2 linked regions of the Homo sapiens genome follow. The protein of the gene in region 2 purifies or fractionates together with the protein of the main gene of each other region. This does not show direct contact. Each region holds a gene or a part of one and is shown on either strand. Other genes may lie near its edges.

Region 1 (4,415 bases), on a different chromosome or scaffold from region 2:
TCCACAGCCTGGCTGGAAGTCACCCCCATTGGGGTAGATGTCAATGTGGCCCACAGGCATCTGAATACCAATGCTCAAGCCGAAGGAACGCGTGTAGGTGTGGAGGACATCCACAAAATCTGCATCGTCCGGAGAGAGCCTCTTGTGGATGTCGGCCCCTTCAAACATGGGCCCGGCAGGATCCAAACCTGCAGCAGAAGGAGGCCCCAAAACAGCTGTGGTGTCAGGTGCACCTGGTCAGTGAGTCCTGATTACAAGTTAAGTCTGAGTGTGCAGAATGAAGATGACTTCTGAGACCAGCTGGGAGAATCAAGACATGGAAAGCATGGAAGAAAATAAGAAACCCATTTCCATATGCAGTTGACCCCAAGACATCATTGCAGAAATTAAATCCTACTGTTATGGAATTTATACTTTCTTCTGAAGCCTTCATGTATCCCGTCACCTCAGCCAAACCCCGTCAACTAGCCACAAGTTTCGCTGCCACACAGCTCCAAGGAACTGCTCCTGTTAAAACTGAAGCAGTTCTAGAAAGAACTCAGACTGCCTGAAACTAAGCCATTTGTCCCATTCATTCTGCCACTGAGCATCTTTCATGTCCTTAATTGTAGCAGAATTTTTACAGAATAACTAAGCTGCCTACATCCTTCTGGAAGGAGAATCCAGTCTCCCCAAACGGAGCTATTTGTATCTGAATTTATTCTTCTTCCTTTAATCAGGCCCAGGGGTGGAATGGTGAGAGAGAAGAGGACACCCAATACACTGAGAATCCATACATCAGGCCTCCAGAATTCCTCTATTTTGCAGCCACCGTGAGAAAACCTTTCCGCCTCCAAACATTTTGTGTTGAGCAGGCAAGCAGCACTGTTGAGAGCACTGGTTCTCATATTTGAAATTGGGAGCTTGTTAAATTTAAATTCCACCATACAGCTACAAAAAAATCTGGAAGGACACACAAGCAACTAGTTACCTGTATGCGTGTGCGTTGGGGGAGAGAGTGGGTAAGGGAAACGGACAGGTAGCAGAGCAGTAAGAGAGACTTTCACCATCTTTTGATTTGAAAACTGCATTAATGTAAAACCATTCCAAAAGAGAACTTGCAAAGTATAAAATGCAGATTCCCAAGTGCCTGAACTCCTAGTGGGTAGATATGAATTATGGCACATAGAAATAGATATTTATTCCCCGGATGATCCTAAAAGTAGGTATTCTGTGGGCCAAATATTGAAAAACTTCCCTGTGTTTCATTATCATTTATAAAATGGAACCTGAATTTATACCTTAATTCAAAGTCCACGTGAGATCTTAAGAGACTGAGTGCCTGTCAGTATTAGCTACTATTACCAAGCCCAAGTGATTATGGGAACCAGATTTATCCCAACCAGAACAGCTCTTTGCCCCACAGACACACAGGAAGGACCTGGAGAAAGTTAAGGGATGAAATGTGCCAGGAAGGAAGGGCCGCTGGAACAGTGGTTCACCACTACAAGTGGCTTTGCCCCCCAGGGGACATCTGGAAATTCCTGGAGACCTTTTTATTGCCCCCATTCTGATGGAGAGAGTTGCTAGCATCTAGCAGGGCCAGGCCAGGAATACAGCTAAACATTCTACAGTGCACAAGTCAATCCCAACACACACACACCCCACACCAAAACCTTACCTGGCCCCAAATGTCAATATTGCCTAGGCTGAGAAAACCTGGCCTCGAAACACCAAGGCTGGGAGGAGATGTGACCAACAAGAGTCCTGAAAGGAGGACATGGTTAACGACCGTGTTCACCAGACCACAGCACATTAGAACCAGGGAGCCTATCAGGAGACTTGAGATGGTAGTTTCAGGATAAACAAGAGGCAGAGCTACCGTCTAGAGTGGACGGTCAACTTGCAGAACTCATTACTCATATGAGAACTGGTAGAGGCTGAAACGCTAAATAGTTTCCAAAAATTTAGATAACTTTTTTTTCTTTTTTTTTTTTTGAGTTGGAATCTTGCTCTGTCACCCAGGCTGGAGTGCAGTGGCACGATCTCGGCTCACTGCAGCCTCCGCCTCCTGGGTTCAAGCGATTCTCCTGCCTCAGCCTCCTGAGTAGCTGGGATTACAGGCATAAGCCACTGCACCCAGCCAAATTTAGATAACTTTATGTGCAACCAAGACAGAAAGGGAGCCCAGGCTGCTTGAGAGTTTATCCCTAGCCCAGGACCCAAAAGAAAGATGGCACAAAAGCAGTGTGCTCCCAGAACAGCCCACGACAACCCATTTCAGAGGCCGCAAGGACCGCAGTACTGACACAGCGGCCTCTCCCTGCCTCTCACCATGTCCCCTGGAGGAAAGAGAAAGAGAGCAACATTCTGCTTTGCAATCAATACAAGAGAGAGGCTCTTTACTTGGTGTGAACAAAGGTCCCCACCAGACGGTCAGTGCCATGGAAACCAGGCTGTGCTGGAGGAATGCAGGCAGCTGATGGGGTTTCACAGGCTGGCTGGCAGGCAAGGCTGGGCCTTCACCTACCCAGCCAGAGCCTGCCTGCCCTGCTCTGACTGTCCCTGACACATATCTGTGGCCCACAGATTCAGGGGTACAGTGGCACATTTAACTTTTTTAACTAGGGATGAATGACAGGGAGAACTGCCTCCTTAAATAAAGAGGAGATAGAGAACCTCCGCCGCTTCTTCCATTCAGTCATAGACTCCTCCAAAGTTGCTTTGTCCAGCAAATGGAGCACACACACATGCACACATGTAAAACTTCCAGGGCTGTGCATTCTGGCCCGGCAGGGCAGGGCCTGCTGTAGTTCAACGGCTACTTTTTTTTTTTTTTTTTTTTTTAAGACAGGGTCTCACTCTGTTGCCCAGGCTGGAGTGCAGTGGCCCAGTCTCGGCTCTCTGCAACCTCCACCTCCTGGGCTCAGGTGATTCTCCCACCTCAGCATCCCGAGTAGCTAGGATTACAGGCATGCACTACCATGCCTGGCTACTTTATCTCTGTCCACAGAAGAGAGGCAGCATGGCACAGCAGTGAGGTGCATGGGATCTGGAATCTGACAGCATGGGTTTGAGTCCCAGCTCTGCTACTTATAGGGCCCAGGATATTGGGCCCTTTACTTAATCACTGAGTCCTAGTTTCCCCCTCCGTAGAATGTTCAGGGTTGCTATGTGGTTCAGAGATAGCATAGAGTAGCTGTCATATATGAGGTGTTTTTTGTTTGTTTGTTTTTTATTTTTTATTTTTTATTTTTGAGACAGAGTCTCACTCTTGTCACCCAGCCTGGAGTGCAGTGGCGCAATCTCAGCCCACTGCAACCTCCGCATCCTGGGTTCAAGAGATTCTCCTGCTTCAGCCTCCTGAGTAGCTGGGATTACAGGCACCCACCACCATGCCCGGCTAATTTTTGTACTTTTAGTAGACATGGGGTTTCATCATGTTGGCCAGGCTGGTCTTGAACTCCTGACCTCAGGTGATCCACCCACCTCGGCCTCCCAAAGTGCTGGGGTTACAGGCGTGAGCCACTGCGCCCGGCCACGCCCGGCCACACATGAGGTATTTGACATTAGCTAGCATCTAGCCTGCACATATGGACACATTTCTTGAATAAATTCATCTGCTTGCTTACCTGATTATAGCAAACAAGGCACAGGTTCAACTATAAATATATGACCTCTTTCCTAGTATCACAGGCTTCTCTCAGAAGCCTAAGAAAGTAAAACTCTAGCAAACCCCCATCCACACCCTCTGGTCCAAGCAAGATTGGGGTTCAGATATACCCTTGCAAGGCCCAGGCTAAGGACTGCCTGGTGGCCTTAGCATAGTGGCATCACTGGACGCAGGACCCCATGCAAGTCTCAATCTGTCCTCTTACCAGTTGCGATCACCTTGTCCACAGGTCCATGAGAAGTCTACCAAGGGGAAAGGAGAGGACGCAGCCTCCCCCATCAGACATACACAACAGCGTGTGTCAGGGGTGCTGCTTGGCAACTGGACAGAGGCCAGGCCCCTTCTCTACAGAGAAAGGCCAGAGGGAAGGGACCATGCTCAGGGCATGTGGGCATCATGCTCCATGCAAACATCCCAGAGCACTAATTAGCATTCTGCCTGGCTCTCCTGCCACCCTCAGGAGAAAAGCCCTCACCCCAGCAGATGCCACTCAAACAGGCAGGGGGAAAGAACTGGAAAGTTCCCTCCCTAGCCCCATCTCATTTCAGATTTAGAAATAGAGAAAGGCAAGATGTGCAGTTTGTCATCGTTACTGACATTCTGGGCCTGGACTGTGGTGTGTGCTACAATTTGAACTCAGGTGCCTGGATCTGAAACATCACACCTCTCATTCAGGGGCTAGGAAGAGGCGCTCAGACAATGGAACCCGAGTGGCTTCCAGTCAAACTGCTTTGCACCAGCAAGGGGTTAATGAGCAGTCATG
Region 2 (5,330 bases):
CTCTAGAGGGACCAAACTAATAGGATATATATATATCCTATATATATCATATATGATATATCACATATCATATATATTGTATATATATCACATATCATATATATCGTATATATATCACATATCATACACACACACACACACACACACACACACACGGCGGTATTAAGTATTAACTTACATGATCACAATGTCCCACAATAGGCTGTCTGCAAGGTGGGGAGCAAGGACAACCAGTTTAAGTCCCAAAACTGAAGAACCTGGAGTCTGATGTTTGAGGGCAGGAAGCATCCAGCATGGGAGAAAGATGTAGGCTGGGAGGCTAGGCCAGTCTCTCCTCTTCACATTTTTCTGCCTGCTTTATATTCGCTGGCAGCTGATTAGATTGTGCCCACCAGATTAAGCATGGATCTGCTTTCCCCAGCCCACTGACTCAAATGTTAATCTCTTTTGGGAACACCCTCACAGACATACCCAGGAACCCAGGATTAATACTTTGTGTCCTTCAATTCAATCCAGTTGACACTCAGTATTAACCATTACACAAGCCTTCCCAATTAGTAAATATTTGAAGACTAACCCTGTTAACAACTACTTGTTTGATTCTTTCTCTTCCCACTTAAAAGGTAATATGGTAATAGGACTGGGTGCTGTGGCTCATGCACTATAATCCCAGCACTTTGGGAGGCCAAAGCAGAAGGATCACCTGAGGCCAGGAATTCAATACCAGCTGGGCAACATAGCAAGACCCCCCTCTCTACAAAACCTTTTTAAAAATATTATCTGGGCATGGTGGCACACGTTTGTAGTTCCAGCTACTGGGGAGGCTGAGGTGGGAGGATGGCTTGAGCCCAGGAGTTTGAGGTTACAGGGAGTTTGATCATACCACTGCACTCCAGCCTGGGCAACAGAGTGAGACCCCATCTCTTAAAAAAAAATACTGCAATATAGCTTACTTTAAGTAGCACAAACCCAACTGGTATGGAATATATCTAATCTAAAAATTATGTGATTATATTGTAAAGTCAATGACATTTATGTGGGGTTTAGAGTACTGAAATGTTTTTTAAGAAAAATTAAGGCTTCAGGTTAACAACTTTTTTTTTTTGTCTTCAATAATTTGCATCTTTGTGGGTGGGTTTGGGGATCTCAGTGACCTGAAGGCATTAGACTGCCGCTTTGCTTTTCAGATATGTACACGGTGCAGGGGGTGTGTTTATAGCTGATGAAGTTCAAGTGGGCTTTGGCAGAGTTGGGAAACATTTCTGGAGCTTCCAGATGTATGGTGAAGACTTTGTTCCAGACATCGTCACAATGGGAAAACCGATGGGCAACGGCCACCCGGTGGCATGTGTGGTAACAACCAAAGAAATTGCAGAAGCCTTCAGCAGCTCTGGGATGGAATATTTTAATACGGTACATTTTGGTCTCCAACTTTAATGCTAAGAAGGAAAAATAATGCATGTTCTTATATTTTTTGCCAATGTAGTAAAGAATAAAGCTCAGTATTGCCGGCTAACCACCCAGAACTCTGGCCAAAGTTTTTTCTTATTTTAATAAAACATCTTAAATACTTACATATATATATAAAATTATACTTTAAGTTCTGGGATACATGAGTAGAATGTGCAGGTTTGTTACATAGGTATACATGTGCCATGGTGGTTTGCTGCACCTATCAACCCGTCATCTAGATTTTAAGTCCCACATGCATTAGATATGGCCAAACTTTTATCTAACCAGATTTTATTCTGTCTGACAAAATGCTCCTTGTATTTCTGCTTGTGTATCTTTACCTGTCCTAAAACAGGCTTATTAATTTTTCCAATGATAGATGGTTGCCCTGCTAAATTCTACAGGTTATGATATTTTCATTTCTTTGTTTCATATCATACTTAAATTTCCAAAACACTTTTAAAGTATTTTTATGACTCAGTACTATAAATGTTATACAGCTGTCATAAGAGATACTAAATTTTTATCTTTGGGATATTATATTTTTTTGACTTATCCCCATAAGCTTTAAGCTTGGAAAAATTATTGTAGTTTGTTCAGTATATATAATACGACTTGTTACAGCTAAAAGTAAGATTCAAATCTGAGGACATAAATTGCTTGGGGAAAATGTCATTGCTTAGCTACTTTTACTCAGCTCTTCAAGGGCAGAAACCCCTATTTCCCTCACTGGGCAACACTATGAAATCCTGAACTCCCAACATAATGTCTGCTTTTGTTTGGATGAGCAAATAAAATCACTGGTAGTCCTTCATACCAGTTATGCAGCTTGGATAATATAATTTAGAATGAATTTTCACTCAGTCCTGAATATATAGAATCATGCTCTATTCTAAATATGAGAAACTAATATTATAAGAGAACATTTTATTTAAATTATATCTTCACTTATGTATGTATGAGCCAAATTTCTCATGGATGAGGGAATACCACTCATTCAACTGGTATATTTTCTCATTTGTCTTTTTTTTTTTTACAGTATGGAGGAAATCCAGTATCTTGTGCTGTTGGTTTGGCTGTCCTGGATATAATTGAAAATGAAGACCTTCAAGGAAATGCCAAGAGAGTAGGGAATTATCTCACTGAGTTACTGAAAAAACAGAAGGCTAAACACACTTTGATAGGAGATATTAGGTATGTTCATTATGAAGTTGTCATGTAGTTACTCATTTTTTTCAAAATAATAATAGTTTATAGGCTGGGCAACATGGTGAGACCCCGTCTCTATTAAAACTACAAAAAATTAGCCAGGTGTGGTGGCACACACAAATAGTCCCAGCTACTCGGGAGGCTGAGGCATGAGAATCACTTGAGCCTGGGAGGCAGAGGTTGCAGTGAGCCGAGATTGTGCCACTGCATTCCAGCCTGGGTGATAGGGTGAAATCCCGTCTCTAACAATAATAATAATAGTTTATATTTTATCTTGTAAGTTTATAATAAAGTACATAAAACTAAATCTGGAAAACACCAAAAAAGAGAGATAGCAAAAATTATTCTTATTCCAGAATCCAGATATCACCACTGTTAACATTTGGGTGGGGCCGGATGTGGTGGTTCACATCTGTAATCCCAGCACCTTGGGAGGCAGAGGCAGGAATATTGCTTGAGCCCAGGAGTTTGAGACCAGCCTGGGCAACATAACAAGAAACCTTGTTTCTATAAAATAAATAAATAAACCAACAACAATAAAAAAACATTTGGGTATATGTCTTTCCTGGCTTTTATACTTTTTTAATAAAGTTAGGATAATGTCAGCACCCAAAAGATGAAAAGAAGGAACTTAATGTAGCTCTAAATAATTTATTGAAAATTATTTAAAATGCTATTCTGAAAAGCTGGATATTTTTCATATATATGTATGAAATACTGACATATATATATATAATATATATATATATTATATATATATATATAATATATATATATATATTATATATATATATAATATATATATATATTATATATATATATATAATATATATATATATATTATATATATATATATATATATATAATGTTAACATTTATCATCATTAACATCCTGAGAAACTAAATAGCATGAAAGGGTTGTTTTTAAGCCATTTTCTTTTATAATTGAGAAAAGAAAACTGGATGACAAAAACTAATTTATTTCCAAAAGTAGAAACAACTGTGAACATAGATTGGTATCTTGATTTAGTTAGAATTAAACTTGGAAATTAAATGGAAGTTTGGTGATAGTGTTAACTTTTTGTGACAGTGAAGAGTTGGACAGATTGTGGGTCAAGTTTTTCTTCACCTCTCGCAGGGGCATTGGCCTTTTTATTGGAATTGATTTAGTGAAGGACCATCTGAAAAGGACCCCTGCCACAGCTGAAGCTCAGCACATCATCTACAAGTAATTCACCCCCACACCCACCTGTTTGGTATCTTGGCTGCAGGATGCCTACCCACTTGAAAGCTTGCTTGACTTCCTCCCATCCCTCTGAAAAAGGAAAGTTTAAATACATCCTATTTATAATGTGGGCTTCTTAAATGCAGAATACTTAAACTGCTCTATGTTCACATAATTCTTCAGTAATCGTAGTTATCCTTTGCATACACTCACATGTATTTCCTACACAAATTAGGATGAAAGAAAAACGAGTGCTTCTCAGTGCCGATGGACCTCATAGAAATGTACTTAAAATAAAACCACCTATGTGCTTCACTGAAGAAGATGCAAAGTTCATGGTGGACCAACTTGATAGGATTCTAACAGGTGGGTCCATGGATCTTTAAGATGTCTTCTTGTTCCCTCTCCCAAACCCACCCCTCAAACCCTGGTCTAGTCATAATGAGCATATGCATCTTGTTATTCATGATGGAAGTGAGGCAGGGCAGAAATAAATGTGTAACTTTCCATTTAGGACTAGAAAAAGATAGCTGAAAAGTAACTACATGGACTCTTAAATTGAAATTTTCAGTTTGTATTCATATAACTCCAAATATAAGTTTTTGCTGAAAGAACATAGTTTTGTCATTTATTTTTACTTTAGACTAGCATATTTAAAAGTGCATGTCTGCATTGTGCCATGGACCACAAATACTACAGTATATAGTATTTCAGCATTGTGTGATTAATACATGAAACATTTCTAATAAAAAAATTATATAGGCTACAGTGTGACAGTTCTTTGCTATATGCTGAATTGCTTAACTTTGCGTGGTTTTTTTTTTTTTTTTTTTTGAGATGGAGTCTCACTCTGTCATCCAGGCTGGAGTGTAGTGCTGTGATCTCGGCTCACTGCAGCCTCCGCCTCCCGGGTTTCAGCGATTCTCCTGCCTCAGCCTCCCAGGTATCCGGGATTACAGGCACCCGCCACCATGCCGGGCTAATTTCTGCATTTTTAGTAGAGATGGGGTTTCACTATGTTGGCCAGGCTGGTATCGAATTCCTGACCTCAGGTGATCCACCCACCTCGACCTCCCAAAGTGCTAGGATTATAGACGTAAGTCACCGCGTCCAGCCTAACTTTGCATTTTTAACTTTTATTTTTAAATTTTTATTTATTTATTTATTTTCTGAGACAGAGTCTTGCTGTGTCACCCAGGCTGGAGTGCAGTGGTGGGATCTCGGCTCACTGCAACCTCCGCCTCCCAGATTCAAGCAATTCTCCTGTCTCAGCCACCTGAGTAGCTGGGACTACAGGAGCATGCCACCACACCCAGCTAATGTTTGTATTTTTAGTGGAGACAGGTTTCACCATGTGGGCCAGGCTGGTCTCGAACTCCCGACCTCGTGATCTGCTCACCTCAGCCTCCCAAAGTGCTGAGATTACATGCATGAGCCACTGCAC

The links. The genes of interacting proteins can lie anywhere in the genome.
Region 1: the proteins of ETNPPL (region 2) and LIPG purify together in Homo sapiens (affinity purification with mass spectrometry; one large-scale study listed by BioGRID and IntAct). This does not show direct contact.

The regions. Positions count from the first base shown.
Region 1 is NC_000018.10:49,571,142-49,575,556, reverse strand, and holds part of LIPG (endothelial lipase isoform 1 precursor), read right to left. Parts: intron 301-4,415; coding exon of another isoform or gene 224-300; exon of another isoform or gene 195-223; intron 189-194; coding exon 1-188. UniProt on the Homo sapiens protein: Exerts both phospholipase and triglyceride lipase activities. More active as a phospholipase than a triglyceride lipase.
Region 2 is NC_000004.12:108,745,321-108,750,650, reverse strand, and holds part of ETNPPL (ethanolamine-phosphate phospho-lyase), read left to right. Parts: intron 1-1,187; coding exon 1,188-1,413; intron 1,414-2,491; coding exon 2,492-2,646; intron 2,647-3,799; coding exon 3,800-3,889; intron 3,890-4,121; coding exon 4,122-4,252; intron 4,253-5,330. UniProt on the Homo sapiens protein: Catalyzes the pyridoxal-phosphate-dependent breakdown of phosphoethanolamine, converting it to ammonia, inorganic phosphate and acetaldehyde.